Linked DNA regions of Homo sapiens: all the other regions are linked to region 4. Evidence: fine-mapped expression QTL. A gene starts in region 4. Each other region holds a variant in brackets. All regions are shown on one strand. Distances are between the middles of the regions.

Region 1 (8,102 bases), 44 kb before region 4:
ATATGATACTAGTCCCGTGCACATCACACACATCTTCTAGTCTGTGGTATCTTTACACCCTTTTTGAGATAGAGTCTTGCTCTGCTGCCCAGGCTGGAGTACAGTGGCAGAATCACGGCTCACTATAGCCTTGGCTTCTCAGGCTCAAGTGATCTTCCCACCTCAGCTTCCAGAGTAGCTGGGACTACAGGCGCATGCCCTGACACCCGGCTAATTTTTAAATTGTTTGTTCAGACAGGGTCCCACTATTTTGCTCAGTCTGATCTCAAACTCCTGGGCTAAAGCGATCCTTCTGCCTCGGCCTCCTGAAGTGTTGGGATTACAGGCATGAGCCACCATGCACAGCCCTTTACACCCTCTTAATGGTGCCTTATAAAGGTTCTTAATTTTAATGTCACATAATTTGTCACTTCTTTATGGTTAGTGGTTTGTGTCCCTGTTTAAGAATTTTTTGCCTACCCCAAAGTCATGAAGATTCCCTCCTATGCCTTTTTTAGCACCTTTATTCTATATTGGCCGTTTCATTTATTTATTTATTTTTTGACACAGGGTCTTGCTCTGTTGCCCAGGCTGGAGTGCAGAAAGGCGATTATGATTCACTGCAGCCTCGACCTCCTGGGCTCAAGCGATCCCATTTCAGCCTACTGAATAGCTGGGAGTAGAGGCATGTGCTACCATGCTGGCTAATTTTATTTAAACAATTTTTTTTTTGCAGCGATGGGTCTCACTACACAGCCCAGGCTGGCCTTGAACCATGGGCTCAGGCAATTCTCCCTTCTCAGTCTCCCAAGTTTCAGAGACTACAAGAATATAACATCATGCCTAGCCCCATTAGTTTGTTTTATTGTTTTTTGTTTTGGAGACAGAGTCTCACTCTGTTGCCCAGGCTGGAATGCAGTGGTACGATCTCGGCTCACTGTAACCCCTGCCTCCAGGGCTCAAGCAATTCTCCTGCCTCAGCCTCCCAAGTAGCTGGGATTACAGGCATGCACCACCACACCTGGCTAACTTTTGTATTTTAGTAGAGACGGGGTTTCACCATGTTGGCCAGGCTGGTCTTGAACTCCCAACCTCAGGTGATCCGCCCGCCTAGGCCTCCCAAAGTGCTGGGATTACAGGAGTGAGCCACTGCCCCCGGCCCCCATTAAGTTTTAATAAGAAAAACTGCAGGCTGGGCATGATGGCTCACACCTGTAATCTCAGACTGTGAGAGGCTGGGGCAAGCAAATCACTTGAGCCCAGTTCGAGACGAGCCTGGGCAACATGGCAAAACCCTATCTCTACTAAAAATAAAAAATAAAATAAAAAATTAGCCAGGTGTGCTGGAAGAAACCTATATTCTCAGCTACAGAAATAGAATACAGGCTGAGGTGGGAGGACTGTTTGAGCCTGGGAGGCAGAGGATGCAGTGACCCAAGTTCCCACTACTGCACTCCAGCCTGGGTGACGACAAAGTAAGACTCCATCTCAAAAAACAAGAAAAGAAAAATTGATTGCAAAAAAATTGTTACACAATGTTTGCTGGTTTGGGCCACCACTGGGAATGGCTTTGCCTGTCTAGATGTTCGGATGCTGAGCACAGTCCACCCAGTTGGACTGCTCCAGGTATAGTACACAGTGGCTGCTAGATTCAGGGTCTTATGGGAACAGCTTCAGCCACTGTGAACTCAGCCAGGGGCGGCAAGGGCATTCTGAAGGTTTAGAGCTCGGCATAAGGGACGCTAACCCAGTGCCTAGAGCACCACCAGGTGCCTTACGCAGCTGGCCAATAACAATTTTAATGTAAAAATAAAAACTCTAGAAGAAAACATGCAGAAAATTACTTTATAATCTCAAAGTAGAGAAGACCTTGCTAACCAAGGACACAAAAGCCACTAACCTTTTTTTTTTTTTTTTGAGACAGAGTCTCACTCTGTCGCCCAGGCTGGAATGCAGTGGCACAGTCTAAGGTCACTGAAACCTCTGCCTCCCGGGTTCAAGCGATTCTCCTGCCTCAGCTTCCTGGGATTACAGGCGTGCACTACCGCGCCCAGCTGATTTTTGTATTTTTAGTAGAGACGGGGTTTCACCATGTTGGCCAGGCTGGTCTTGCACTCAAGTGATCCGCCTGCCTTAGCCTCCCAAAGTGCTGGGATTACAGGTAGTGAGCCACCGCACCTGGCCTCCATACTGTTTTCTATATAGAGGTTATAGTAATTTACAGTCCCATTAACAGCATATAAGCATTTCCTTTTCTGTGCATCCATGCCAACATCTGTTGTTTTTTGACTTTTTAATAATAGCCATTCTGACCAGTGTAAGATGATATCTCACTGTGGTTTTGATTTGCATTTCTCTGATGATTACTGATGTGAGCACTTTTTCATGTTTCTTTGCCGCTTGTATGTCTTCACTTGAGAAGTATGTGTTCTTGTCCTTTGCCTACTTTCTCTCTAATTCCTGGCCTCAAGTGATCCTCCTGCCTCAGCATCCCAAAGTCCTGGGATTACAGGTGTTAGCCACCACGCCCAGCCTTTGCTCACTTACTAATGGGTTTTTTTTTCTTGTTGAGATCCTTGGAGATACTACGTATTAGTCCTTTGCCAGAGGCTTAATTTGCAAATATTTTCTCCCATTCTATAGGTTGTCTATTTACTCTGTTATTTCTTTTGCTGTGTAGAAGTGTTTTCATTTAATTAAGTCCCATTTGCCTATTTTTCTTCTTGTTGCATTTGCTTTTGAGGTCTTAGTCATATATTCTTTGCCTAGGCTAATATCCAGAAGAGTTTTTCCTAGGGTTTCTTCTAAGATCTTTAGAGTTTCAGGTCTTATGTTTAAGTCTTTGAGTTAATTTTTGTATGCGGTGAGAGATAGAGGTACGGTTTCATTTTTCTATATATGGTTAGCCAATTTTCCCAGCGCTATTTATTGAATAGCGTGTCCTTCCCCCACTGCATATTTGTCAACTTTATTGAAGATCAGTTGGTTGCAGGCAAGTGGCATTACTTCTGGGTTCTCTATTCTGTCCCACTGATCTATGGTACAAAAATATGTACAAGTACCATGCTGTTTTAGTTACTGCATGAGTAGCTAGGACCACAGGTGTGCACCACCATGCCCAGCTAATTTTTTTGGGGGGACGTGGGGGGCAGGTACATTAGAGATGGAGTCTTACTATGTTGCCGAGGCTGGTCTCAAGCTCTCAAGAAATCCTTTCCCCTCACTCTCCCAAAAGAGGCCTTGTAGTATAATTTCAAGTCAGGTAATGTGATGCCTCCAGCTTTGAAGAACCTTTGTTCATTACAAGGCATCATTAAGAGAACGTAAAGGTGAGTCAAACACTGGAAGAAGGTATGTGCATACAAGAAAAGTTATTTTACTACAAAAAACTGTAAAGCTCTACATGGAAAAAATTTTATTAAAAGTCAAAGCCAAGCCAGGTACAGTAGCACATAGGTGTAGTCCCAGCTACGTGGGAGGCTGAAGTAGGGGGATCACTTGAGCCCAGGAGTTCAAGTCTAGCCTGGGCAACATGGTGAGACTCCACCTCAAAAAAGAAAAAAAATTTTTTTAAGTCAAATGATAAAAACTGGTAAAAACTATCTGTAACATTGTAACACTATATCCATTTCCACAATATAGAGTTCTTACAAATCAATAGGAAAAAGATTAATCACATAATCTTACAAACCAATAGGAAAAAGATTAATCACACAATCTAAAAGAATGCAAAGCCCACAAACATAAGGTCATAGGTAAACAAGTAGCTTTTAATCACGTGAAGAAAATACTCGTTTCCTCAATGAAAGAAATGTAAAGTAAAGCTACAAGACACCAATTTTTAACCGCTGAAATAGTAAAAGACAAAATGTTTCATGATATATTCTGTGAGTGTGTGGATATGAGTAAAAAGACATTCATTGTTAACGGAATGGAAACTGATTCAGCCTCCGTTTTTTTTTTTTTTTTTT[TC/C]AGTCTTGCTCTGTCACCTAGGCTGGAGTACAGTGGTGTGATCTTGGCTCACTGCAACCTCCACCTTCCGGGTTCAAGCGATTCTCCTGCCTCAGTCTCTGGAGTAGCTGGAATTACAGGGGTGCGCCACCATGCCCAGCTAATGTTATATTTTTAGTAAAGACGGGGTTTCAACATGTTGGCCACGCTGTTCTTAAACTCCTGACCTCAAGTGATCCACCTGCCTCGGTCTCCCAAAGTACTGGCATTACAGGCATGAGCCACCACGCCTGGCCAATTTGGCTTCTTTAGAAGGTAACTGGGTAACACCCCAAAACACTCTGATTTACCCATATCCTTTGACCCAGCAATTCCACTTATGTTACAGGAATATCCTACAAATATATGTGCAAATCTGCATAAAAGTATATACAAGTATGTTCAATGCACCATTAGCCATTGTAGAAGGAAATGAAAGCCATCTAATGTCCCTTGATAGGTGATACAATGAAGTATGAATGTATCCAAATGATGACATATAATGCAACTGCTAAACAAAATGATAGATTTATATGTAATAAGGAAAAATCTCCAAGACAGTTCATTAAGTTGCAAAAACGAGGTTCAGAACAATGGGTAAAATGTGCTACCGTTTATTTACATTGGGGAAAAGCAGGGATATATATTTATATTTGTATGTGCACAGAATTATCTGGAATATTTCAAGAAGCCTCTGATGAGGGAGTTTGGAGGTCAGGGGGCCAGAAGTAGGAGGGAATTTTTGTACCCTTCTGAAGCTCCTGGACAAAAAAAATTAACAATGTACAGGTATTCTTTTCTAAAACAGGTAAACCAGGCAAGAGCAATGGCTCATACCTGTAAACCCAGCACTTTTGGAGGCAGGAGGATCACCAGAGGCTAAGAGTTTAAGATCAGCCTGGGCAAGATAGCAAGACCCCATATCTACAAAAATTTTTAAAAGTCAGTTGGGTGTGGTGGCACACGCTTGTACTCTTGGCTACTCGGGATACTGAGGCAGGAGGATTGTCTGAGCCCAAGAGTTCGAGTCTATGCTCGTGCCACTGCATTCTAGCATGGATGACAGCAAAACCCTGTCTCTAAAAAAAATATAAAATAGGCCGGGCACAGTGGCTCACACCTGTAATCCCAGCACTTTGGGAGGCTGAGGCGGGTGGATCACGAGGTCAGGAGTTCAAGATCAGCCTGGTCAATATGGTGAAACCCCGTCTCTACTAAAAATACAAAAATTAACCAGGTGTGGTGCAGGCGCCTGTAATCCCAGCTACTCCGGAGGCTGAGGCAGGAGAATCGCTTGAACCTGGGGAGCGGAGGTTGCAGTGAGCCGGCATTGCGCCACTGCACTCCAGCCTGGGTGACAGAGTAAGACTCTGTCTCAAAATAAATAATAAACTTTTTAAAAAAAAAAATCAGGCAAACCAAACAAAACACACATACCCTTTAGCCTAGAAATCCTAGATTTAGGACTCCTTCCAAAAGAAATAAAAACACACACATACAGGTTATAAGTACAAAGACATTTATTGCATAATCTATAATGATAAAAACTATAAATATATCTTTATCAACAGGGGAATGTTTGATTAAATATGGAATATAATATGGCTTCCTATCTACTGACTTAGAGAAATGCTCATGATGCAATATGCATAGTATAATTACTTTTTTTTTTTTTTTGAGACAGGGTCTCACTCTGTCACCCAGGCTAAAGTAGAGTGGCATGATCACAGCTCACTGCAGCCTCGAAGTTACAGTGAGCTATGATCAGGCCACGCTGCACTCCAGCCTGGGTGACACACTGAGTACTCTGTCTCTAAATAAATAAATAAAAGGTTTCTTTACTAATTATACGAAGCCTTTTGATCTCTGAAATGCTTGTTACCCAGTCACGTGACTAAATGATGTGATGAATGATGTGACTCAATGAATGTAATGTGGTAAATATGACATGTAAACTTTTTAAAAGAAAAGCCATACACAGGCCTGGCGAGGTGGCTCATGCCTGTAATCCCAGCGCTTTGGGAAGCCGATGCGGGTGGATCACTTGAGGTCAGGAGTTCAACACCAGCCTGGCCAACATGGTGAAACCTCATCTCTACTAAAAATACAAAAATTGGCCAGGCGTGATGGCGCATGCCCGTAGTCCCAGCTACTCAGGAGGCTGAGGCAAGAGAATCACTTGAACCCCGGAGGCGGGGGTTGCAGTGAGGCGAGATTATGCCACTGCACTCCAGCCTAGGTGACAGAGCAAGACTCTGTCTCAAAAAAAAAAAAAAAAGAAAAGCCATACATATGAATTTTCGTTATATTTATAACCAATCTGCTGACTCGATGAAATATTTAGTAGAGCTGTAAATGGAAATTAGAATTTTTAAAAATACTGAGGGCCAGGCGTGGTGGCTCACACCTATAATCCCAGCACTTTGGGAGGCCAAGGCAGGAGAACCACTTGAGCCCAGGAATTTGAGATCATCCTGGGCAACATAGCAAGACCTGTGTCTACAAAAAAAATTTTTTTTTTAATTACCTACAGGCGGCCAGGCACAGTGGCTCATGCCTGTAATCCCAGCACTTTGGGAGGCCGAGGTGGGCAGATCACAAGGTCCGCAGATAGAGACCATCCTGGCTAACACGGTGAAACCCTGTCTCTACTAAAAATACAAAAATGGAGCTAGGCGTGGTGGCGGGAGCCTGTAGCCCCAGCTACTCGGGAGGCTGAGGCAGGAGAATGGCATGCAACTGGGAGGCAGAGCTTGCAGTAAGCTGAGATCACACCACTGCACTTCGGCCTGGGCGACAGAGCGAGACTCTGTCTCCAAAAAAAAATAAAAAATAAAAGAAAGAAAGAAAATTACCCACAGGCCAGGCATTGTGGCTCATGCCTGTAATCCCAGCACTTTGGGAGGCCAAGGTGGGCAGATCACTTGAGCGCAGGAGTTTGAGATCAGCCTGGGCAACATGGCAAAACCCTTTCTCTACTAAAAATACAAAAAATTAGCCAGGTGTGGTTTTACATGCCTGCAGTCCCAGCTACTAGGGAGGCTGAGGCAGGAGGATCACTTGAGCCTGGGATGTGGAGGTTGCAGTGAGCTGAGATTGCCCCACTGCACTCCATTCTGGATGATAGAGTGTAACCCCGTCTCAAAAAAAAAAAAATTACCCAGGGGCCCTTCTAGCTCTAGCTACAGGTAGGCTGAGTCAGGAAGATAAGGAAGTTGGGAAGATCAGAAAGATCACTTGATCCCTGGCAGTCTGAGGCTGCCATGAGTCATGATTGTGCCACTGTACTCGAGCCTGGGCAACAGAAATGAGACCTTGTCACTAAAAAAAAATTACAAAACGGAAATAAGCAAATGTTCAGTGTAACATGTATTCCATTCTATACTACATTTTGTTCATTCATGCACTGAAGGGCATTTAGACTGAATATGAGGTGTACACGTTTTTGTTTGAGCATTTCTTCTTTTTGACGGAGTTTCATTCTTGTTGCCCAGGCTGGAGTGCAATGGCACCATCTCAGCTCACCATAAACTCTGCCTCCCAGGTTCAAGTGATTCTCCTGCCTCAGCCTCCCGAGTAGTTGGGATTCAGGCACCCACCACCAAGCCCGGCTAATTTTTATAGTTTTAGTAGAGACGGGGTTTCACCATATTGGCCAAGCTGGTCTCAAACTCCTGACCAGAGGTAATCCGCCCGCCTTGGCCTCCCAAAGTGCTGGGATTACGGGCGTGAGCCACCGCGCCTGGCCCTTAAACACTTTTTCAATTTTTTGGGACATATCCTTAGAAGCGGAATTGCTGAATCATATGATGATTTTATCTTTAACTTGTTCAGGAACCTCAAACTGTTTCCCACAGCAGCTGTACCATTTTACATTCCCTCCAGCAATGTATCAGAGTTCTAACTTCCTTACATCCTCACCAATACTTTTTTTTTTTTTTTTTTAGGAAATGGCTGTCCTACTGGCCATGAAGTGGTATCTCACTGCAGTTTCAATTTGCACTTCTCTAACGATTCATGATGCTGATCATCTTTTCATGTGCTTGTTGGCACCTGCCACTCTTTGGAATGTCTATTCAAGTCCTATGTCCATTTTTTTTTTTTTTTTTTGGTCTTGGCTTCTTCACAGGACA
Region 2 (8,102 bases), 73 kb after region 4:
TGGATCCCAACGATTCCCACCTTAGAGGCAAAGACAAAGGCTTTCCAGGGGCTTCCCAGGCGCCAGAGGGTCTGTCAATCCCAACCCTCATCACACGGCCTCCTTGCTTTTCCTCAAACACACAAAACACATTTTTTTTCTTCCCCCCAGACAAGGTCTCGTTCTGTTGCCTAGGCGGGAGCGCAGTGCCATGAACATGGCTTGACTGCCTGGGCTCAAGAGATCTTCCCACCTCAGCCTCCTGGGCAGCTGGGACCACAGGTGTGTACCACCACGCCTAGCTAATTTTTTTCTTTTTTTTGGTAAAAATGGCGTCTCACTATGTTGCCCAGGTTGGTCTGGAACTCTTGGCATCAAAGGATCCTCCCACCTCGGCCTCCCAAAGTGTTTGGCTTACAGGAGTGAGTCACTGCACCCAGCCCAAAACAAATTATCATCCTGAGACACCCTGACGCCACCCGCCACCCGCACAACTCACTCTTTCCCTCCCTTGGATCTCTGCTGGAAACACCATCCAATCCATGAGGCCTTCCTGATCACCCGATTTAAGATCACTCTGGGCAGCATCCATCCCCATCCCAGCTTATTATTCTCCACAGCCTGCACTGCATCTGGCCTTCCACACCTCTTATTGTTCACAGTCTGACTCCCCTAACTGAAGAGAATAAACACACGATTTTTGTCCTTTTTGTTCACAACTGTATCCTCAGCGCTTGAATGCTACCTGACAAATACTAAGCTTTTAATAAATAGTTGAATTAGTGGATTGTGACTTTGACTTTATCCAAATGCTGATGAGCACAAAACTGACAAACTGCCCTCAGCTGAGGAGGAAGAAAAGCAGCGGAGCTGTAGCAGACTCCTTCCACTTCAGAGCTCAAGAAATCAACGCTCCATCGCCCACTACAAGGCTTTTGTTGTCCTTACCTTTGAGCCAAGATCAAACTTGAACTTGTTGACATCTTCCTCTACTATTTCAGAGCCCTCCATCCCCTTGGTCTTCATAGCATTATAAAGGACAGATGTGATCTTCAGCAGCTCTTTTACCGCATACCCATCTGCTTGATAAAGCTTCTTAGTGTTGAGTTTTATATGTGCCTTGGTGGCCTATTTTTAGACCAAAAAAAAAAAAAGTTGAAGGCCCTTTCCATGTAATGTCTAAACTAAATCCCATGTAGGTGAGTTGAAAATGCCTCTGCTGACAACTGGGATATAACCTAATAAAAGCAAAGCATTCAAGTGACTCAAACATTGTGAGTGGTTGTATAAACTGGGACAATCTTGATGGAGAGCAATTTGGTAAAAGACATCAAAATTACAAATGCACATATCTTTTGACCCAGCAATCCCAAATCTAAGAACTTATTCTAGGGACACACTCAAACACAAACAAAATGAGATGTACAGGTTATTTGTTACAGCACTGTTCCAAAGAGCAAAGCTTCAGACAACCTAAAAGCCTACCTATATAAATTACATAAATTATGGCAAATCCATGCAAGCAATACCACTCAGGCGTAAACAGAATGAGGAAATTCTATATGTATTTGGAAAGTTCTCTAAAATATACCATTAAGTAAAGCAAGATGCTAAACATCTTGTAGTGTACAGTAAGTACATCAAGTAGAATACAGTACCATTTGTGTAAAACAAAGGAAAAATATATATTTTTATTTGCACACACACACACACACACACACACACACACACACACAAACTCTGGAAGAGATTTAAAATAGTGGTTATTTGGAATGGAACTTGGCCCAGGGCAGATAGGGTAAAAAGTCATTTTACTCCATTTTGTTTCATAATGTTTTTAATTTTTTTTTTTTTTTTGAGATAGGGTCTCACTCTGTCACCTGGGCTGGAGTGCAATGACATGATCCCGGCTCACTGCAGCCTCAACCTCCCGGGCTCAAGCAATCCTCCCACCTCAGCCTCCCAAGCACCTGAGACTACAGGCACGTGTCACCAGGCCCATCTAATTTTTTTTAAATTTATTTTTTGTAGAGACAGGATCTCACTACATCACCCAGGCTGTTCTCAAACTCCTGGACTCAAGCTATCCTCCCACCTTGGCCTGCCAAAGTGCTAGGATTACAGGCATGAACAACCACGCCCAGCCTACTTTCAATTTGTGAGCCATGAAATATGTTATCTATTCAAAAATAAATAAATAAAATTCTTTTTTTTTTTTTTTAAGACAGAGTCTTGCTCTGTTGCCCAGGCTGGAGTGCAGTGGCGTGATCTCGGCTCACTGCAAGCTCTGCCTCCCAGGTTCACACCATTCTCCTGCCTCAGCCTCCCGAGTAGCTGGGACTACAGGTGCCCGCCACCACATCCAACTAATTTTTTGTATTTTTACTGGAGACGGGGTTTCACCCTGCTAGCCAGGATAGTCTCAATCTCCTGACCTCGTGATCCGCCCACCTCGGCCTTCCAAAGTGCTGGGATTACAGGCGTGAGCCACCACACCTGGCATAAACAAAATTCTTAACAAATAATGAATTAAAAGACAAACAAAAAGAACTTCGCTGGTGAAATGGTGCCACAGAAACCCAGCAATGGAATGGTTTTAGAAAGCAAACTCAGGCCAGGCGCGTGGTGGCTCACATCTGTAATTCCAGCACTTTGGGAGGCCAAGGAGGGTGGATTACTTGAGGTCGGGAGTTTGAGACCAGCCTAGCCAACATGGTGAAACCCAGTCTCTACTAAAAATGCAAAAATTAGCCAGGTGTGGTGGCGTGTGCCTCTAATCCTAGCTACTCGGGAGGCTGAGACAGGAGAACCCCCGAGGAGACGGAGGTTGCAGTGAGCCAAGATTGTGCCACTGCACTCCGGCCTGGGCGAGAGAATGAGACTCCATCTCAAAAAAAAAGAAAGAAAAACTCAATTACACAGTTTGAAAGTCGCCCTAACAAGGAGTCATCCTTTCTAGTTTATTTAATTTTACAACTCCACAAAATAAGTGTCCACTAACCATGAACTGGGCAATTGCCTTAATGAAGAAAACTCGGTCCTGTTCAGTATCCACGTCAGGCGGGATGTCAGTCTGGGGCTCATATCTATCAAGAGAGGTAAGAGGAGAGAGCACGGGTTAACCAAGGAGAAAGTCTACTAAAGAGAATGTGGGCAACTGAGAGGACAGCGGGTCTGGAACACAACGCTCTCCAAGTCCCCAAGTGGGAGAGTGAGATCAAGGCAAACTTCAAAAGCAAAACCAAATACCAAGGGAGCAAATCCCCACCTAAGAA[A/C]AACAGATTTCAAAAACTAAATGTGGATCTCAGCTTATAAAATTAAATCTCTCTCAGATCTCACCATGTCATGAAGCTAATCAGAACTGCTACCCTGGCTGACAGCCCTTGACTCAGAGATCAGTGCTAGGGCCGATTAGTCAGCTCTAAGCAGCAGCAGAGTTGGTGAAGTTATTTTCTTCAAGGTATTGAAACCAGGGGTCAGCAGACTGCAGCCTCCGACCTGTACAGCCTGCAAGCTAAGAACTGTTTTTACATTTTAACAAAAAGAAGAGACGCAATAGAGATCTTATGAATTTTATATTTAGCAAAAGGTAAAATATTATCTGGTCCTTAACAGAAAAAGCTGCCAACCCTGAATCATATAACATATTCAATTTTTTCACAGAAAAAGAAATCTCCATTATTTCTAATCCAGTGTACTGATCAGAATGTGCAAAAAGGCCCCTGTCACTCTGCCATGAGGGGCTGAAGAGCAGCCTGGCCCAGCATCCTACTGAGGAATAGTCGTCTCCTTTCACGACTTCCTGGTATATTTCCCACTCCCACAGCATTCTTTAAACTCCACTGATTTTTTTTTTTTTTTTTTTTTTTTGAGACGGAGTCTCGCTCTTTCACCCAGGCTGAACTGCAGTGGCGCTATCTCGGCTCACTGCACACTTCGGCTCACTGCATGCTCCGCCTCCCGGGTTCACTCCATTCTCCTGCCTCAGCCTCCTGAGTAGCTGGGACCACAGGCGCCCGCCACCACGCCTGGCTAATTTTTTGTGTTTTTAATAGAGATGGGGTTTCACCGTGTTAGCCAGGATGGTCTTGATCTCCTGACCTCGTGATCCACCCGCCTCGGCCTCCCAAAGTGCTGGGATTACAGGCGTGAGCCACTGCGCCCGGCCTGATTTTGTTTTTTGAGACACAGTCTCAATCTGCCCGGGCTGGTGTGCAATAGCATGATCAGTGGCACTGCAGCCTCAAACTCCTGGGATCAAGTGATCCTCCTGCCTCAGCCTCCTGAGTCGCTGGAACTATGAGTGTGTACCACCCAGGCTCAGCTAATTGTTCTTTTGTGTATGGAGACAGGGTCTTGCTATGTTGATGAGGCTAGTCTTGAATGACTGAGATTATGAAGTGCTGGGATGAGAGCAGTGAGCCACTGTGCCCAGCCACAACTCCTTTGTAACAGAATACAGCTGGGTCTGTCAAATTCCAAAAACTTTCCCTTTTGCAGCATCACAGCTGTGTCCTGTTTTCTAGATGACTAATAAATAAAACCCAGTATTCACTCTTAGATGTCAATAAAGTGCCGTTCGAACCTTTTCACAAGCCAGAGAAGCACTTCAGATACAAGTCCAAAATTGGGTGTACGGAAATTTTCCATAGAAATATGTCGAGGGTATCCCAGGGCTCTCATCATCTCTGTGAAATCTGTCCAAGGAAAAATACAATTCATTCAGTTCCCCATCACACAGCAACTACTTATTAACTTAGATATTGTCTTTACTTTTCCTTCTTATTTCCAACCTATTGACAGCTTTAGGGACTATTTGTCAACTTTCTACAAGGGAAAGCAAAAAGGAGATAAAATTTAAAATACCAAAAATGCTACCTAAAAAGCATATATTTAAGTTCAATGGGAGAAGTAGATGGCTATACATGAAAATGGAATTGAGGGATTAGCTGTGAATTTCATTTCTCTCTTTAGTATCTCATTTCTTTTTACTGCTAAAAGGAAGAAACACCCGTCCTTATAAAATGTCATGAAGAAAAAGTATTTTTAAATGTCAACAGTGGTTTGACTCAAATTCAGCTGATTAAAAAGTGTTTTAAAATGTTAACAGTGGTTATTTCTGAGGGGAATCCGTAGGATGACATTCATGTTTCTGAGTTGTCTTTTTTTTTAATTTTAGTGACCACATAGGACCCAAATAACACAAGTTTTAAAGATCAGTCGCCTTGTATTTAGAGAAATCTTAAATAGAGTGGTTGAACTATACAACCATATTTAGATTTACTATAAAACAGATTAAGAAACAGTAATACTAATACTTGTTGATCCATAGGTTGGGGTCACCTCAGGAAAAGCCTTAGTGCTTTCAAGAGAGCAGGACTTGGAAATGAACACCACAAACATTTGTTGAGTTCCCATATGTACCAAGATCTACATTCAGTGTGCTTCCTGGTTATTTAAGGTCTGTCTGCACTCTTCTTGAAGATCCATGTTCAAAATGGTCCATCAATGTTCACAAATAACCTACCTAGGTACTGCAAGTCAGGTCAGACTTCGCAAGACAATGAAACAGAAAGTGTGAGCACAGGAAACAGCAAAGTCACAAAGGGACTCTGTAACTGTTTTCTGGGAAATGTGAATACAGAGATTAAAAAAAAAATTAACTGGGTGTGGTGGTGCATGCCTGTGGTCTCAGCTATTCAGCAGGCTGAGGTGGGACGATCACCTGGGCCCAGGAGGTTGCAGTAAGCTCAGATCATGTGACTGCACTCCAGCCTGGGTGACAGAGTGAGACCCTGTCTCAAAAACAAAAACAAAAAAGGCCAGGCGCGGGTGGTTCACGCCTGTAATCTCAGCACTTTGGGAGCCGAGGAGGGTAGATCACCTGAGGTCAGGAGTTCAAGACCAGCCTGACCAAAATGGTGAAACCCCACCTCTACTAAAAATACAAAAGTTGCCGGGCACAGTGGCTCACGCCTGTAATCCCAGCACTCTGGGAGGCCGAGGCGAGTGGATCACAAGGTCAGGAGATTGAGACCATCCTGGCTAACACGGTGAAACCCCGTCTCTACTAAAAATACAAAAAAATTAGCCAGGTGTGGTGGCGGGCACCTGTAGTCCCAGCTACTAGGAGGCTGAGGCAGGAGAATGGCGTGAACCCAGGAGGCGGAGCTTGCAGTGAGCCGAGATCGCGTCACTGCACTCCAGCCTGGGTGACAGAGCGAGACTCCATCTCAAAAAAAGAAAAGAATAAAATAAAAATAAAAATACAAAAGTTAGGTGAGTGTGGTGGCGGGCGCCTATAATTCCAGTTACTGGGGAGGCTGGGGCAGGAGAATTGCTGGGAGGCAGAGGTTGCAGTGAGCTAAGATCACACCACTGCACTCCAGCCTGGGAGACAGAGCAAGACTGTCTCAAAAAAAGAACAGAAAAGAAAGCAGCAGCCTTTCCTTCACACAGTAAGGCACTGCCTAAATACTCCTGACCACTAGGTACTAGTCAAGTTCTGTTAATGCTGCGGTGTTATTGTCAAAATAGACACTAATTTGAGTAAGATCCTTACCATACACTGCACAACTGCAGAGCATTAATTTAAGATCAAAATATTCCGAAATCTCCGTGTGTGCGCTCCCCAACAAAACCCCATTCTACGTCCCCCGGCAGGGTGCTGGCCTCTCTAAAAACTATGTGGGAGGAGACAGTCATCCTGCATGATGTGTGGCCACCAAAAACCTTCAAACCCCAGAGGGCAGGATTCACACTCTGGTGCTCAGTGGCTGCATGGATAAAAGGTAATGCGTCTTCCTAGATATTTTTACATTGTAGAAAAGAGCAATTCATAACCAAAAGGAGTAATCTCTAATGCTAAAATTTCAGGCACCAACAATTGGACGAGAAAACTGGCTTTAAGAGACCCCTCGGATCACACCAAATTGGCAATCATCATCTACCTTTCCTTTTTTTTTTTTTTTTTTAAAGACAGTCTCACTCTGTCGGCCAGGGTGGAGCGCAGTGGTGCCATCTTGGCTCACTGCAACCTCTGCCTCCCGGAATCAAGCAATTCTCCTGCCTCAGCTTCCCAAGTACCTGGGACTACAGACGCGCGCCACCATGCCCGGCTAATTTTTTGAATTTTTAGCAGCGGCAGGGTTTCGCCATGTTAGCTAGGCTAGTCTAGAACTCCTGAAATTAAGTGATCCGCCTGCCTCGGTCTTCCAAAGGGCTGGGATTACAGGCGTGACCCACTGCGCCCAGCCGTAACCAACACTCTTAGCCTCGTTCTTCCACTTCCCCACCCTCTTAGCAAAGGAATTCGAGCTCCCTTCTCCTTACCAGCCCTGCAGAAAGGATGCAGATGGAGTTCAGGATGTCTGGAGTTCAGGCAACCTGAATTCAAGCCCCAGTGCCACCTCCTACCGCCTGTATCACCTGCCCAAGTTACCTGACCTCTCTGTGCCCGTTTCCTCACTACCAAATACAGGGGGCACAGAGTTGTTCAGATGATTAAAATGAAATGCGCATAACACAGAGCGGGCCCTGGCAGATCGTTAAAACTCAAAAAATGTTAGCCGCAATGATTATCACCCAGCCTCCTCTCCTCGGTTTCGTTGCTGGTTGTTTTTTTTTTGGTTTGTTTTTTGTTTTTTGAGATGTTGTTTCGCTCTTGTTGCCTAGGCTGGAGTGCAATGGCCCGATCTCGGCTCACCGCAACCTCCAAAGCGATTCTCCTGCTTCAGACTCCCGAGTAGCTGGGATTACAGGCGCCCGCCACCACCCCCGGCTAATTTTGTAATTTTAGTAGAGACGGGGTTTCTCCATGTTGGTCAGGCTGGTCTCGAACTCCCGACCTCAGGTGATTCGCCCGCCTCGGCCTCCCAAAGTGTTGGGCTTACGGGCGTGAGCCACCGCGCCCGGCCTGCTGTTCGGTTTTCTAAGCGCTAAGCTAACCCAACTCAAAAAATAGTCTCTAAACTCTCCATGCATTTTCCAATACGGTAGCGAAGAGCGGCATGCAGCTACACAAACAGAAATAAATTACACTTAAAAATTCAGTTATTCATCTGCACTAGCCACATTTCAAGCGTTCTGAGCCACACGCGGCCAGTGGCAGATAGAGAACTTTC
Region 3 (8,102 bases), 38 kb after region 4:
CATTTTCTGGTTGGCTGTGAAAAGCATCCCCTTTTGGGTCCCAAGCCCCTGCTGACAGTCACTCTATATGTCCCATTTCCTGCTTGCCTCTGGCGGTTCAGACTCATGCAGGCCCCAGACGCCTCTGTGTGCTTAGTATGAGGCGGCGGGCTGCAGGGCCTGTGGAGGAAGGGCAGTTATCCCCAGGAAACCCTGGGAGTGTCTATGGTGTGTGTAGTCGGTTAAACCTGGCAGGTCCAAGTGCGGCAGGGCCTTGCTAGAATGCTCCCTGTGCCCCGTGCACCCAAAGGGGTCATACTCTGTGTCTAGTTTACAGGAGAACGCCATCGGGGATGACGGAGCGTGTGCGGTGGCCCGTGCACTGAAGGTCAACACAGCCCTCACTGCTCTCTAGTAAGTCCTAGATGTGCGCAGCAGTCAGGAAACCGGTCCCTTCGCCATCCTTTCACGTTAGAGGTCTTTTTTTTTTTTTTTTTCCTCGAGACAAGAGTCTTGCTCTGCCACCCAGGCTGGAGTGCAGTGACATAATCTCAGCTAACTGTAACCTCCACCTCCTGGGTTCAAGTGATTCTCAAGCCTCAGCCTCCCATACAGTAGTTGGGATAACAGGCGTGCACCACCACACCCAGCCTAATTTTTGTATTTTTAGTAGAGACGGGGTTTCACCATATTGGCCAGGCTGGTCTCAAACTCCTGACTTCAGGTGATCTGCCCACCTCAGCCTCCCAAAGTGCTGGGATTACAGGTGTGAGCCACCACACCTGGCCTGGACGTTATTTTTGTTTACAAGTCAAGGAAGGTGTGTTTGATTTTCCTAATATAGGAAATATGATATTAGCAGTTGGGGGCTCAAACACCTAGAGAGTAGTAATGAGGAGGTACAGGGAGCATTCTCCCCGAGCCCTTCCAGGGACAGCCTCTATTTCTCATCTCCTTAGCATCCAGATCTCTGTCTTAGGCAACAGACAGTGTAGGTAGGAGATGGAGTGCCTAGACACAGCGCTGGCCAACCATTCTCAGTGCTGTTTCTCCACTTTCCATCCTGAGTCAAGGGGTGGTGAAAGGGAACGGAGTATGCGGAGGGAGGTGGGCCCAGCCGGCTCACACTGACGGCACCCTCTCCGCCCCAGTCTCCAGGTGGCCTCAATTGGTGCTTCAGGCGCCCAGGTGCTAGGGGAAGCCTTGGCTGTGAACAGAACCTTGGAGATTCTCGAGTAAGTATTCCAGTCTCCATCTATGGTCTTTAGCCCAAAGAAATCAATGAATTCTCAATGAATAGATATGGGGACAAAGTTTACAGACAACTCACAAATCATCCTGGTGATCTTCATTTCAGTGCAAGTATACCAGTTTCCCAGCCCCACTTCATGCCTTTCCCTGGGAGTCGCTATCATTTGCCCTCCTCTCCGGGTTGGCCTTGCCAGGCTGAACACGTCTAGAGGCCTGGTTTATGGGTCCCAGGGGGGCTGATCTTGTTCTCTGGGCAGATCCAAAGTCCTGGGGTGAGGTTACAGCTCTGAGGCTCAGGCATGTCCTCAGAATTCCTGCCCTTGCTGGGAGCACTGGGGACCTGCCCAGATGGAGGGCTGCCTCTCCTGTCTCAGCCCCGCTTTTCTGTTTGAAATGGAAGAGGAGGAAGGCTCCAACAACCCTCCTGGCTAGGCCAGCCATGCCCCTGTGTGCCCTGCTTCCCAGAGCCAGCTCTGCCCTGTTGCCCTGGAGTGAGGAAGGCACAGCCCTGGCCTCCTGTGACTGCTGAAGTCCTTGTTTCCTCTACCAAGCAGCCCCAAGCCCACCCGCAGAGGGGTCAGTATCACCTCTCAGCCTGTACCCATGCCTTAGGCTTCCTGTCTTTCCCAACAGCTTAAGAGGAAATGCCATTGGGGTGGCTGGAGCCAAAGCCCTGGCAAATGCTCTGAAGGTAAACTCAAGTCTCCGGAGACTCAAGTAAGTGGCTGGAGGGACCTACCTGCATCCTGGAGCAGCAGAGTTCTCTGCTGGGTCCTCCCTGATGGAATAAAATGCTCCTGATTTCTTCTGTAGCTATTTCCTTCTGAATATAAACAATCAGACTTATTATAGTCCACATTCCACTGCAGCTGGGTTTGTTGAGTGTGCTTAGCTTCAGTCAGAAGTCACTCACATCTTGCATTTATGGCCTTACATCCTCCAGCGCACTTGCGTGGGACAATCTGGCCACTCGTAGACACCTGTCTCCAGGGTCAACTCCCACCTGGAGTTGCCATGGCACCTGTGGACACATCTGCCTGGGTTACTGCCCCCAGACAATGCACTGTTGCTTCCCCGGGTGTTTTCCTTCTGCCCTGATGGCTCACCGTGTGTCTCCATCTCTTTTCCACTTAGTCTTCAAGAGAATTCTCTGGGGATGGACGGGGCGATATGCATTGCCACAGCACTGTCTGGAAACCACAGGCTCCAGCATATCAAGTGAGTGCACCTGCCCTTCCTGCTCACCCTTAGAACTGCTTCCAGGTGGCGCACTGCCTTTTGCCCAGTTCTGAGAGCCAGCTGACCCCCAGACGCTTCAGCAGGCCTATAGGGAAACCTGGTCTAAGGGGAGGTACCCTGAGCCTTGTCCATGTAGCGAGGGGATCCTAGAAGCACAAAGGCTTTGCATGGGGTCCTGCATTTTCTATTGTATGGCCTGCTCTACTAAAGAGAACCTGCAGGCTTTGAGCCCTGCCTTAACCCTACTCTTCTAGTCTCCAGGGAAACCACATTGGGGACTCCGGGGCCAGGATGATCTCAGAGGCCATCAAGACAAATGCTCCCACGTGCACTGTTGAAATGTGATCCTGGTGGACGGATCAGGAGAATGGGCAGATGCTCAGCTGGAAGCTTTTGAACAGAAAGGCCGACTTCTGGGGGGCCTGTCTGGGAGCTGGGAACGCTGCTTGCTCAGCACGAGAGCCGGGCTCTGCAGGGAGGAAGGAGAGGTGCTGCCGGAGGAGGTCGTGAGCTCCTCTTCTGCTGCAGGAGTGGTCCAGGCAGGGGGTGACGGGTACTCTGTTATGGCACAGAGAAGGGAGGGGCCACCCCCAAGGGACTAGGGGCCAAAGGCCTGAAAGCTGAGCAGTACAGGAGGCTGGTTCCAGCTTTACACCCTGAGGACTTCATGTGTCCCCAACCTTTAAAAATGTTTATTACTGCCCCTTTCCACTCACCTGGTTAAAAATCATCCCATGCTCTGAGATGAGCTGCCACCTCAAGCCCGTGAGGAGCATCCGTTTGGTAGGGGTAACAGAGGGGACCCTTCTTTATCTTCTCAAGAAGAAGATTTCAGGGTATCATCCTTACAGACATGAAAAAGCTATGGGAAAATTGTGAAGATAAATGAAAGTTTTAATTCTAGGATTCTGGAAACAGAGACAGTAAGAGTTCTCCAAGGATTTTGCCTTTTTTGTTTGTTTTTGAGATGGAGTCTCGCTCTTGTCGCCCAGGCTGGAGTGCAGTGGCACGATCTCAGCTCCCTGCAACCTCCGCCTCCCGGGTTCATGTGATTCTCCTGCCTCAGCCTCCCCAGTAGCTGGGAATACAGGCACCCGCCACCATGCCCGGCTAATTTTTGTAGTTTTAGTAGAGACGGGGTTTCATCATGTTGGCCAGGCTGGTCTCGAACTCCTGACCTCAGGTGATCCATCAGCCTGGGCCTCCCAAAGTACTGGGATTACAGGCATGAGCCACCACACCTGGCCCCATTTTTTATTTATTACAAAATCAAAGACATGGGTGATGCCTGGCACATGTTGTCTGGAGTCTGGCACACTGGTTATCAATAGCACATTCAGTGTATTCAGTGATGTCATTCTTTATTTATTTTTGAGACAGAATCTGTCACCCAGGCTGGAGTGCAGTGGCATGATCTCAGCTCACTGTAGGCTCTACCTCATGG[G/T]TTCCAGTGATTCTCCTGCCTCGGCCTCCCAAGTAGTTGGGTCTACAGGCACGCACCACCACACCCAGCTAATTTTTGTATTTTTAGTAGAGATGGGGTTTCACCATGTTGATCAGGCTGGTCTTTAACTCCTGACCTCAAGTGATCCACCCACCTCAGCCTCCCAAAGTGCTGGGATTACAGGTGTGAGCCACTGCACCTGGCAGTGATGTCATTCCTTACTAGGCTTCCAAAGCCACTGCTGTGGCCACAGCTTCCATGGAGACAGGCAAGCTGAGCCTCTATGTGGCACCAATTCCTGCAGCTGTTTGTGTTGGAGGGAAAAAAATCCAAATGGACATCAACAGCTTTCATCAACTAAATAACCACAGAAAATATTTATGAAGACTATAAAGCAATGATTACTTTTGAATTGGAAAGGAATCACTATTATTTGAAATGTTTCTTCAAAAGTGAGCATCCGGACAGGAACCATCATGGATGCTGAGGCCATGGATGAAGGCCTACTCGGGAAGATGATATCCTTGCAGTCTCAAAACGGCACCCCACAAAGGTGATATCCTAATTTACAAAGGGAAAAAGGTACCTTAATCTGAAATCTGGCAAATGCAGCCTCAACAGAAGTGACAGAATTGAACATCGCCAATAATGGGACACACAGACATCACATGCCCCCAGTCTGATGCACCACGGAGTCGTCTCTGATGTATTCTTGTCAAAAAATGTTTGCCTGATTCTAATCATGAAAGAACAATTAGAAAAAATCCAAATTGACAGATATTCTGCAGAATAAATGGCCTGACCTCATCAAAAACATCAATGTCATGAAAAACACAAAACATTGCAGATAGCGTGAAATTAAAGATTACAGAGATATAATTTAATGCAAGATCTCTGACTGGATCCTAGACTGCAGGAAAAAGTCTGCTATAAAGAACATTTGGATCACTTGTAGTAGCTGGGAAATAAAACAAAACATTATTTGTAAAAGGGGGGAAATCTGAACATGGGTCTTGCAGTATTTATGACAGTTTTTGCGGGGCAGAGATTTCTAGATTGACAGCTGTTTTAGTACTTTCAAGGTGATGCTCTGTCTGCTGGTTTGCATTGTTTCTGTCTGAGTTAAGAGACTGGCAGAACACAGAGTTGCAGTAGCCAAACACTGGAGAAAGCTGGGCCCTACAGAAACCTAACGCTGAAGAAACCTCAGGAGCCAAACTGGTGGAGAAAACAAAGAGTCCTCCCTCTCTCCCTTTTCAAATAATGATCATACATCTTCAAGCTGTCTGAAATGGTTAAGGAGTTCAGTCTGTCGTCAGGCACACACCAGAGCCAGCTAGCCCACACAGACCCCATCAGAGCAAAACAGACAAGAGAATTTAATTCATATCCACATAGAAAGGACTTCTAGGTAGGAGGTAGACCCTTTAGCTCCCTTCCAATTAAAGGAGTCCCCAATTCTGGCACCTGAGAGTCCCCTGGGTCTAACAGCTATGATATTTATGTAGTGTGTTGCTTACCTAAATGAATACAATTTCCTTCCAGACACGTGACACTGATATTAAAGTGCTAATGAGAGGGATCTATTTCTTCTTGTACGCTAAAAGAGAAACAGCAGTTCAGATTTCCCATCAGAAGTCCGAGGACTTTGTTCTTGATAACTACTACCAATAAAAATTGAGTATTTGAAAAATTCCTTTGTATTTTCCATCCATACACATTTTTTTTTAAAGCATTTTAGGAAGTCCTCTAATTATATAGTAAAAATTGTCAGCAATGGCCTGCTAGTTTTCTATTTGACCTAATCACAACCATCCTCGTTAGGTCCTGAGGTCTGCTCTGCTGCTTGGCCAAAACCAAATGGTGCCAGGTCACAAAGCACTTGCACATGTGAATCCTGCATCCATTCTACAATGGGTCACTATTGACTGAAATACTTTAATAAAAATGATAGAGCACATAAAGCTTGCTGTTGACAGAAACTTCCGTGCTCAAGCAAGGCAGTGCTATACATGGTGAGACCTTGCACAAAGTCAGTTAACTAACAGATGATCTAGAAGCAGGTGACACAATGAAATACCCTTTGGAGCTGTTGCCTATGTCTGTGGATAGGCTCTTTGTAGCTAGGTTAGGCTTCTGTGTTAAAGTGTGTTAGAAGAAAGCATCACATAAGGAAAATAGAACTCTATTCGTATGTTTTTTCAAAACAGAAGTCAAGTCACATTCAGGCAAACCAAATCTGTAACATTCAAGAAGATGCAGTGACTCTTCCGCATCTTAGAGCCACGGTGTCTGAGGTGGCTGGCATGGCTCCAACACGCTGGCTTCCCTGTCAGTGGATCATTTACAATATGGTGCATTTCAAATTACTGGTGAATTCACTGAATACTGGCTGTTTTTTTTTTTTTAGGGGTAATCTTATACATAAAATTTAGGAAAAGAAAGAGAAAAAAGCAAAAATGACAGAAATAACTCAAAAGTTCCTAAAATTTATGTGTATCTTTTCGTACCTGTGAACTCCTGAATAAGTATTTATATCTGACAGGTACAAATACAATAATTATATTTTTAAGTAAAACCTATTTAATAATATGAAGTATGGTGTTAAATACATGTATTAAAAGATAAGTAACTTCAGAAGTCTTCTGACTTTTTAATTGTAAAATAAGTGAAAACTGTTTTGTGCTTTTTTATTTACTGTATGCTTTTTTTTTTTTTTTTTTTTTTGAGATGGAGTCTCACTCTGCTGCCCAGGCTGGAGTGCAGTGGCGCCATCTCGGCTCACTGCAACCTCCGCCTCCTAGGTTCAAGCGATTCTCCTGCCTCAGCCTCCCCAGTAGCTGGGGTTACAGGCATGCGCTACCACGCCCGGCTAATTTTTGTATTTTTAGTAGAGGTGGGGTTTCGCCATGTTGGCCAGGCTGGTCTCAAACCCCTGACCTCAGGTGATCTACCCACCTCAGCCTCTCAAAGTGCTAGGATTACAGGCATGAGCCACCACGCCTGACCTACTGTACGCTTTTTACAAGCAGCGTGCTTTTCTTTTTCTTTTTTTTAAAGACAGGGTCTCACTCTGTCACCCAGGCTGGAGTGCAGTGGCATGATCACGGCTCATTGCAGCCTCAACTTCCTGGTCTCAAGTGATTCTCCTGCCTCAGCCTCCTGAATAGCTGAGACCACAGGCATGCCCCTCCACACCTGGCTAATTTTTTAATTTTTTGTAGAGATGGAGTCTCACTTAGTTGTCCAGGCTAGTCTAAAACTCCTGGGCTCAAGTGATCCTCCCACCTTGGCCTCCTGAGTAGCTGGACCCAAGGGCGCTTGCCACCACTCCCAGCTAAGTACTTTTCATATTAAAAAAAAAGAAGAAGAAAAAAGAAAAAAACCAACTCCACTTCTAATTTCACAACAGAAAAATTCTTCTAGTGCTATTACTCTACTTAATTCAATCCTGTGTTGTTGTTTTTTTAAATCAGAAACATGAATCTGTACCAACACTTTTTCTTAATTGGCTCCTTCCCCTACAGAAACACTTAGGTAGCGAGCTGCAGGAAACCTGCCTTTGTCCCTGTGTTGTGCACTATGTCTTGCCACACTTTAGACAAAACAAAGCTCCTTTAGAGAAACCCTGGCTGGAGGGAAGAAAAGTGTCCCGGCTGTCATTGCCATGGGAGTCTGGAGTTTCTGAGAGGGCAGCCCAGGTCACCAGAGTTTCCAGATTTAGTACCAACCGTGGAAACATGAAGGTGGCTGTAATCCAAGGTGAACTGGACTGCCAGAGGAATGTCAGCTTCGGACAGAAAATGGAGGATTCCTCATCTGGAGCCTGTCTCTATTGCCTGATTTTCAAAGAAACCAAGTTTTCATTTAACTTTAGCTAACCTTCTTTCAGAAAAGTTTAGTTATTAAAATACATTTAATGCTTGGTATTGTGAACATGCAGACGAAAGAAAATAAGATTACAAAATGAAATAAGAGCTAGAATTAAAAGCCGATGTATAGGAAATGTTCTCAACTGTGCAAGTGATTAACAGCCAGATGTTCCCCTACGATTCCAAACATGAGTCCCCAGTGCCAAGTTCCAGCCCCAACTCTGCTGGAGTCTCAGAGAAAATGTATAGTAACAAAAGCAGCCAAGACTTGTGTGGCGTCAGCTCTTATTTCTTCTTGAGTTTTTGTCCCGTGGATG
Region 4 (8,102 bases):
TCAGCTCTGCGCTGTGATGATGACCACAGCCCAATCCAGGGCTTCCTCCTCTGGGCTCTGCTTTCTAGGGTGGCATTTGGAGCATGTCACCCACTGGATTTACAGACTCCAGCCCCTTCCTCTGTCCGTGCTCACAGTGTGTCTCCCTTTTTGGTTTTCTTTTTTTTTTTCTTTTTGAGACAGTCGTGCTGTGTCACCTAGGCTGGAGTGCAGTGGCACAATCTCGGCTCACTGCAACCTCCGCCTCCCGGGTTCAAGCAATTCTCCTGCCTCAGCCTCCCAGATAGCTGGGACTACAGGCACACGCTGCCACGCCCAGCTGATTTTTTATATTTTAGTAGAAACGGGGTTTCACCATGTTGCTCAGGCTGGTCACAAACTCCAGAGCTCAGGCAATCCGCCTGCTGCGGCCTCCCAAAGTGCTGGGATCACAGGCGCCAGCCACTGCGCCCGGCCCAGTGTGTCTCCCTTAACCCAAGAGGGCCCTCAGCTGTCCCAGGGGGCAGTGGGCCATCACCAGCTGGCCAGGGCATGGCCTATTCTGCCACATTTGCCACCCTCTGAGCCCACCAGTCCTGGGCACAGCTGCCCTACATGTCTGTCCTGAGATGGACGTCAGGTCCAGCCTGCCCCGGCAGCCCGGGCCCGTCCTCCTCAGCACTCAGGCCAACCCCAGCCACCGCCAGCCTGAGACCAGGTGTCCTGAGGCTCCCTGCACTGCCACAGCCCAGATGCAGTTCTCCTGACCCAGCCGTGCTACCCGGACACTTGTCATTGTTACCAGCAGTCTCCAAACTGGACAGTGCACAAGGGCCCAGAACAACTCTGATGCCACCACAAAACAAACATGTTCACTAGCGGATTCCATTCTTTGGGTTAAAGCTGCCTCCAGCCTCAGGAGCAGTGTGGAGGAAGATGAGGGCCAGGAAAGAAGGAAACCTTGGTTTCTCCATCCTTGTGAATGTCCTCGTCTGTTTCAAATACAGTGCAGTCAGTTTTATATGATGTGCAATAAACCAAAAAGGCTTTATTAAAATCTGGCTGCCACACTCCAGGGAGACCACGAGCGAAACGGGGGACCTGGAGGCACCGTGGCCCCTCAGCCCGTGCCCCACGCCTGCAGAAGTCCCCACCTTGCACCTGCCCTTTACTTTGGAGTAACCTGGGCCTGCTGTCTCCTCATTTCAGTTCCCAGACCAGAGATGCAGATGTTCATCCATTAATCCACACACCCGTATCCAACAGAGCCCTGGCTGGGTGCCAAGCTCCAGCCCCCGCACCTCAAAGTGGGGCCCAAGCACCCCCAGCTGCTGCCTCAGCCGGGAGTTGCTACAAAAGCAGATTCAGGCCCCACCCCACAACTCACCAAGACAGCACATGCCTTTACCATTGCGTCCGGTCCAGTGGAGGAGACAGACGCTGGCCTATCCCAGCCTGGTGGGGAGTCGGGCTCCAGTGGCTTGAAGGGCCGTGTCAGGGACAGCCTCCCAGAAGAGGGGTTTGTGAGCTGCATCTTAGGGCTCAGCAGCATTTAGGGGGTGAAATGTGATTTCTGGCGCACATACTATGTCCTGGCACGTGAACCAGCGGAGAGGCCCAGGCCTCCCAGCTTACGGTGCCCGGGGCGAACAATTTGAGAGGCTGAGATCAGCTGTGATCAATCTGAGGCTGGCCTCTGGCCTGTTTCGGAAGGCATCACGCACTGCTTCCTTGATGGGCTGATCCCCCTCCCTGGTGTTAGGGAAGCGAGAGGGAGTGGTGCAGGTGGGGGACTCGGGGCCCCTGTCCGGCCTCGCAGGGTTTGTGGTTTGGGGAAGTATGTGTTATGTGCCATGACTTGAAAGTTCAGAACTTCAAGGCTGGTAAAGATGGGTTGGGGGAGGGGTTCCAAGTAGTTAACAAGCTGGGTTAGGAGCCTTGAGTGCAGTGTGAGCCCAAGGCCAGGGGAGGCATGGCCTGGGGACTGGATTCGAGCCTTGTGGTGACCTTGGATTCAGTTGGGGCTGCTGGACGCTCCCTGGGCTGACAGCGCTGGGCAGAGGCTTGGTTTATGCACTGCCACCCAGCCAGGGGACTGGATGCTGGCCCTGAACCTGTACAAAGCAGCATTTCCTTGTCCTGAAACAAGCTGTGAAGCAGCTGATTCCTCCAGAGGGAAAGGGTTGAAGGAGTCACTGCAGGAACCCACAGAGGCGTGGTGGCATCCAGGAGTAGACCTGGCCCCTGCTACAGGGATGACGCTGACCCGGGCAACATAAAACTAGGTCCAGTTGACAGATGGAAAATGCCTTCTCACAGCGCCTGCAGCAAGACTGGCAGGCAATGGGGCCTCTTCATGGACAAGGCGAGAGAGAGTTACCTTCCAGGAGTGACTGAGAAGGAAGCTGGCATGCCGGGTGCGGTGGCTCCCACATGTAATCCCAGTGCTTTGGGAGGCCAAGGCAGGAGGATCACTTGAGCCCAGGAGTTTGAGACCAGCCTGGGCAACATAGTAAGGCCAAGTCTCTATTTTGAAAACAATATTAAAAACATTTCTAAAGGGGGAGAATAAAAGACTGGCAGCAGAACTTTCACTGGTAACAACTAAATCAGAAAACGGGTCTGTCTATGCCTCACTGTAATATGAACAGGCCTCCAGGCCTGTCCCACTTTTGGTGGCCCCAACCTGGCATGGCTTGGGCACAGCCCCTCAAGGCAGTCACAGGGGAGCCACACCCCAGCCTGGGCCCAGGCAAGGGCACTTACAAAGAAAGAGCCTGCAGGCAGGGGCCTTGCGCTGTTGCTGAGTTAGGAAGGGCTGAGGTCGCTTCCTGTCTGGCTGACCCCAGCTCTGGGTGGACAGAAAGCCCCAGAGTGAGAACAGTTAGGGAGCCCCCAGCCCAGCACCCCCACCTCCACCAGGAGCCAGGAGGACGGCCCACCTGGTTCTCAGCAGAGCGGGCAGAGTGGGGAATGGGACCAGCCCTGTGTGGACTGATGGACATTCCTGCGAGGGGGAGGAACGGGCGGGGCGGGGCGGGGCGGGGCTGGGCTGGGCTGGGTTGGGCTGCTCCCCAAGATCCCGTGGATGAGGCTGTGTCCTCTCAGGCTCCGCATCCATCCCCCTGAGCCACAAAGGGAGGCAGTGTGAGCCTCTGGCCCCTTTTATGTGACGGATACCCACCGGGCCCTGTGGTTTCCAACATCCTGTGGGCGGCCTGGTTTCAGGCGCCTTTGTTGCTCCCCACAGCCGAGGCTGCAGCTGCTGGGTCTGCACTCTGCCTGCCTGGAGCCTCGGGCAGCCTTCTCGAGGGTCCATCGTGTCCTCCCAGCACCCAGCAGGTTCCTGGGTGCTCAGAAAGCATTGTTGGGAGGGAGGGAGAGGAAGGAGGGACAAAAGAAGGTAGGCAGGCAGGGGAATGTGCAGGAGCACTTCTGGTCTGCTGCCTCAGTTCCCTCCCCCCCATCACCCACACAGGCTCTGGGGAACCAGCTAACCCTCCTACCTCCCCTGAGCCACAAGCTGCTCTATGAGTCCAGACCCACTACTCTCCTGCTCTACAACCATTGCTGGCTCCCACTTGCTTGCTGAGGAAAATTCAGACCCCAGGACCCCTGTCCCTTGGCTCCCACCTTGTCACCTCCTTCCCTCAGTGGCCCCATGTTGCTTGCTCCCTGTCCCCAGCGGATGTCCCATACTTTATTGTAATTTTTCTCATGTGGCTTGCTCTGGGCCATGTCCTTCCCCCTCACGCCCTTCCCTGTCAGGGCAGGCCACCCACTGAGGTCCACTTCCAGGGGCCGAGTGCGATCTCCTGCCGCGGACGGCAACATTCTGCTGTTTCCTCTTAGGGTACAGGTGACCTGCCTCTGGGGAGCCCTTTGCTCACAGGAAGATGTTATGGGGCACAGCTGAGTCAGAGGTGCCTACTGGGTGACAGAGAGAAAAGAAAGCAAGAGGTGTTAAAAGAGGGAGCACAGTGGCTCACACCTGTTATCTCCGTGTTTTGGGAGGCCAAGGCAGGAGGATCACTTGAGCCCCAGGAGGTAGAGGCTACAGTGAGCCGAGATCACACCACTGCACTCCAGTCTGGGTGACAGAGCAAGATCCTGTCTCAAAAAATAAATAGGCTGGGCGCAGTGGCTCACGCCTGTAATCCCACCCCTTTGGGAAGCCAAGGTGGGTGGATCACCTGAGGTCAGGCGTTCAAGACCAGCCTGGCCAACATGGCAAAGCCCCTCCTCTGCTAAAAATACAAAAATTAGCGGGGCATGGTGGCGCATGCCCGTAATCCCAGCTACTCAGGAGGCTGAGGCAGGAGAATCTCTTGAACCTGGGAGGGGGAGGTTGCAGTGAGCCGAGATCGTGCCATTGCACTCCAGCCTGGGCAACAGAGCGAGACTCTGTCTCAAATAAATAAATTAAATAAATAAATAAGGAGAGCCACAGGGGTGGCCTGGAGGTGGCAGGGCACAGTCCAGTCCTGCTGGGGTCACCCTCTAGTTGCGTGACCTCAGGCTGCTCACTTGATTTCCTGACCACCCGCCTGAAAACAAGCATTTGTTGATGGCGGGGCAGCTTCCTTTGTGGCGGGATGGAGGTGATGTGTCAACAGCCTTGGCACCAGCCACTTTATCCTGAGCATGCCACCTGCAGGGACACTTAATCCCAGAGTCAAGACCCCCAGCATCGCCCCCGCACTTAACTTGCACGGGGGCGGTGACCAAGCCAGGGTGCCCCGGCTCCTCGATGTGTCTGCGAGGCTGTTGGCTGTTGAAATCAGACAGGAAGGAAGAATGAGGTGGAGCCCAGCACAGGAAGAGGTGAGGACCCGGAGCCACAGGGACAGCCGGTGGGCTCGGTGGGGCTGCAGAAGGTCGGGGCTGCACTGCTCTCGGCCCCCACACGGTTGGTTGGTTGGCGTGGTAAGTGCCCTGATCCCTGGTCCTGAGAACTCAGGCTGGCACAGGGATTCCCAGGGCATCTACCACCACGCAGCTGGAGCAGGGCTGAGCCCAGGAGCATGGAGATGGACGCCCCCAGGCCCCCCAGTCTTGCTGTCCCTGGAGCAGCATCGAGGCCCGGGAGGTAAGTTGGGTCCAGGTGACCTCAGTGCAGGGCAGGGGAGGGAGAAGGGATGCTGGCAGGAAGGACAGTGGCCTTAAGGCCTGAGCTACTCTGGGGAGGGGGACTGGGGAGACTCCACGAGACTCCAAGAAGCTGTCTCCTGGGGCAGGACTGGCTCATGCTGTAGAAAAAAGAGATGTGGCCAGGCACGGTGGCTCACGCCTGTAATCCCAACACTTTGGGAGGCCAAGGTGGGCGGATCACTTGAGGTCAGGACTTTGAGACTAGCCTGGCCAACATGGTGAAACCCCATCTCTACTAAAAATAAAAAATAAATTAGCCAGGCATGTTGGCAGACGCCTGTAATCCCACCCAGCTAGTCGGGAGGCTGAGGCAGGAGAACCGCTTGAACCCGGGAGGCGTAGGTTGCAGTGAGCCGAGATCGAGCCACTGCACTCAATCCTGGGTGACAAAGCGAGACTGTCTCCAAAACAAAACAAAACAAAACAAAAAAGAAAAGAAAAAACAGGTAACTAAGAATGGCCCAGGACAGGTCCCAGGGACAAAACCCAGCTCCCCCAGGTACCAGTGATGGCCCAGGAGAAGCAGGAAGCATCTTGAAGGTGCTGCGGGCAGGCAGTGGTGATGCTGAGCCACGGCCTGGGGAATCGGCAGACCTGGGCACCCTTCCTGGCACTGGGACCCCCCATGGGAGGCTACTTCTCTGGGCCTCAGCACCCCACCTGTAGATGGAGGTGACAGCACAGGAGGGGCGAGGTCATGAGGGGCAGGGAGGGTGCAGGCGCCGCCCCCAGGCGAGTGGGCAGCCCCAGGGCCTCTCCTGCCCACAGCCTTGGGTGAGACAAGGGTCGAGAGAGACGGCAACCGCAGAGGCCTTCTCGGAAGAAGTGCCACTGCCCTGGGCCAGCCTGGGTGTTGGCTGCAGGGTCTTCCCCTATGGCCAGGCTCCAGAGGCCCTGGTGTTTTTCTGGACCCCTCCCTGGAGGTGACCCTGAGCCTGGGGCTCACTGTTGGCCATCACAGGCTGCAGGCTGCACCCCTCTTCTTCTGTCCCAGGGTGCTGGGCTCCCCAGGGCTGGGCCTCTCCACCCCTTGGACTCCAGGGGTCCATGCAGTGAGCAGGGTAGGGCCCTGAGGTGCAGGTGCCACTTCCTTCTTCCTTCGGGAAGGCTTTTGAGCTCAAGTGATGATGCTGGGGCCACCTCGAGAGAACCGAGTCCTGAATTCCAAGGCCCTGGGAGGGGGCAGGGGCAGGATGTGGGAAGAGAGGAGCATCCAAGCAGCCGTGGTGGGAGATACTGGCAGCCCAGGTAGGCAGCCAGCACTGGGAAGTCCCACCCGGGCGCCAAGTGGCAGGGAAGGACCCAGCAGGTCCCGGCAAGGACTGAGGCACAGATCAGGTGGGCGGGTGATGGGCAGAGGCGGCTAGTCCGTCGGGACTGAGGCTTCTCAGGAATGAGGCAGCAGGCCACTTGCTGAGCCTGAGGAACTGGGCTTGAGCCCACACCACACCAGGAAGGCCTCAGGTTCACCTTCGCTCACAGACAAAGCTCTAGGGGTGAAACCTGGTGCTACCTGGGAGGCTCCCGGGGAGGAGGCAGCAGTGGCACCTACTCGTCCCTCTGGCCTCGCCCTGCTCGCAGCAGCTCAAACCAGCTGTGGAGCGACCTCTGGCCTTCAGATCCCCCAAAGCAACCCGAGTCCCACCTGTCCTCAGTCTCTCTGTCTTTCAGCTGCGCTCACAGGGGCCGCCTGACCATCCATAGTGGCGTCTGCGGCCTCGCGACCTCACTCGGCTGAGAGGTCTGTGGAAGGCTCCAGCCTGCCAGGGGGATGTTAGGGCTGCGTGCAGGGCCTGGCAGCGGTGGCAGCCAGGTAACCAGCCCCCATCAGCCTTTGGGGCTGGTCCTGGGAGGTGCTGGCAATGGCAGGGGGGTTGGTTCACCTGCACCCCCTCCTCTGTCCTTCTTAGGGACAGTGTCCAGGATGAAAGCCACGTTTCGTCTGAATGGGGCCTGAGCAGGGATGCCAGATCAGATACAGGACACTTGGTCAAATGTGAATTTCAAATAATCCATTTCTTTGGTATGTCTCCAGTATGACATAAGCTATGCTTATACTAAAAATTATATGTCGTTTATCTGAAATTTAATTATCTGTGGATATCTCATATTTTATCATTATTTTTTGAGACAGTCTCGCTCTGTCACCCAGGCTGGAGTGCAGTGGCGTGATCTTGGCTCACTGCAGCCTCCACCTCCTGAGTTCAGGCGATTCTCCTGCCTCAGCCTCCAGAGTAGCTGGGACTACAGACATCCACCACCACGCCCAGCTAATGTTTGTATTTTTCGTAGAGATGGGGTTTCGCCATGTTGGTCAGGCTGGTCTTGAACTCCTGACCTCAAGGTGATCTGCCCACCTCAGCCTCCCAAAGTGCTAGGATTACAGGCATGAGCCACTGTGCCCAGGTTTGTCTTGTATTTTAATTTGCTGAATCTGGCAACCCTGGACCCAAGGTCATGGGGCCACAAAGATGGGTGTCTGATCAGGAGGGAGTGCTGACTCCCAATACTGAGAGACTAATGAGGCCACAGAGGCAGGGGTGCTTGCCAGCCCCCTACACCCCGTCCCCGCCTTCCCAGGCGCTTGTGAGTCCTGCCTCGCCCCAACCCCTCACTCCTGCCAGCACTGTCCCTCCCTCATTCCTCTCCCAGCCCCGCTCGGGTCCCGTGGTTCTCAACTCTGGTTAGAACCACCGGAGGAGCTTAAACTAGATCCACGTGGGGGCCCTTGCCAGACCAATCAAATCTCTGGGTGGTCAGGCCGAGCGTTGGTTATTTAAAAGCCGTGCTCCACAAGGCCGGGCGCAGTGGTTCACACCTGTAATCCCAGCACTTTTGGAGGTCAGGAGTTCAAGACCAGCCTGGCCAACATGGTGAAACCCTGTCTCTACAAAAATACAAATGGTATTGATGGTGGGTGCCTATAATCCCAGTTACTGAGGACCCTGAGGCGGGAGAATCACTTGAACCCA

Which allele goes with the higher level. Alleles are on the strand shown, and positions count from the first base shown. SD is a standard deviation of normalised expression in the study named. Not every link is listed here.
As copies of C replace TC in region 1, the expression in lymphoblastoid cells of the gene that starts at base 4,814 in region 4 goes up (large effect, 0.86 SD a copy in GENCORD).

The links. PIP is the estimated chance that this variant, and not a neighbour inherited with it, causes the effect.
Region 1: its variant is fine-mapped to the expression of NLRC3 in lymphoblastoid cells (GENCORD, PIP 0.95).
Region 2: its variant is fine-mapped to the expression of NLRC3 in whole blood (TOPMed, PIP 0.92).
Region 3: its variant is fine-mapped to the expression of NLRC3 in nucleus accumbens (GTEx, PIP above 0.99). The same link has a PIP of 0.9 or more in anterior cingulate cortex, cerebral cortex, hippocampus, hypothalamus, prefrontal cortex and putamen.

Annotation. Positions count from the first base shown.
Region 1 is chr16:3,618,063-3,626,164 of GRCh38, reverse strand. It overlaps a transcript of DNASE1 not described here. Among named protein-coding and RNA genes, the nearest start is that of SLX4, 11 kb to the right of the region's middle. RefSeq lists an enhancer at 72-171. The variant TC/C (reference allele first, on the strand shown) is at 3,951.
Region 2 is chr16:3,501,294-3,509,395 of GRCh38, reverse strand. It overlaps CLUAP1 (clusterin associated protein 1), which reads right to left. Exons shown (of 12, transcript NM_015041.3): 2 at 4,565-4,676; 3 at 2,981-3,065; 4 at 928-1,107. Among named protein-coding and RNA genes, the nearest start is that of CLUAP1, 4.3 kb to the right of the region's middle. RefSeq lists enhancers at 6,616-7,132, 7,133-7,650. The variant A/C (reference allele first, on the strand shown) is at 3,255.
Region 3 is chr16:3,536,537-3,544,638 of GRCh38, reverse strand. CLUAP1 (clusterin associated protein 1) reads right to left here. Exons shown (of 12, transcript NM_015041.3): 12 at 5,591-8,102. NLRC3 (NLR family CARD domain containing 3) reads left to right here. Exons shown (of 20, transcript NM_178844.4): 16 at 310-393; 17 at 1,131-1,214; 18 at 1,864-1,947; 19 at 2,365-2,448; 20 at 2,724-5,606. The coding sequence ends at 2,814. It overlaps LOC101929732 (a long non-coding RNA gene), which reads right to left and starts at 2,730. Exons shown (of 4, transcript XR_007064953.1): 1 at 2,337-2,730; 2 at 1-2,251. RefSeq lists an enhancer at 1-216. The variant G/T (reference allele first, on the strand shown) is at 3,914.
Region 4 is chr16:3,574,115-3,582,216 of GRCh38, reverse strand. NLRC3 (NLR family CARD domain containing 3) reads left to right here and starts at 4,814. Exons shown (of 20, transcript NM_178844.4): 1 at 4,814-5,068. It overlaps SLX4 (SLX4 structure-specific endonuclease subunit), which reads left to right. Exons shown (of 15, transcript NM_032444.4): 15 at 1-1,036. LOC105371060 (a long non-coding RNA gene) reads right to left here and starts at 4,714. Exons shown (of 2, transcript XR_001752061.3): 1 at 3,164-4,714; 2 at 996-2,830. RefSeq lists enhancers at 774-1,569, 3,471-3,650, 3,681-3,730 and a silencer at 2,931-3,030.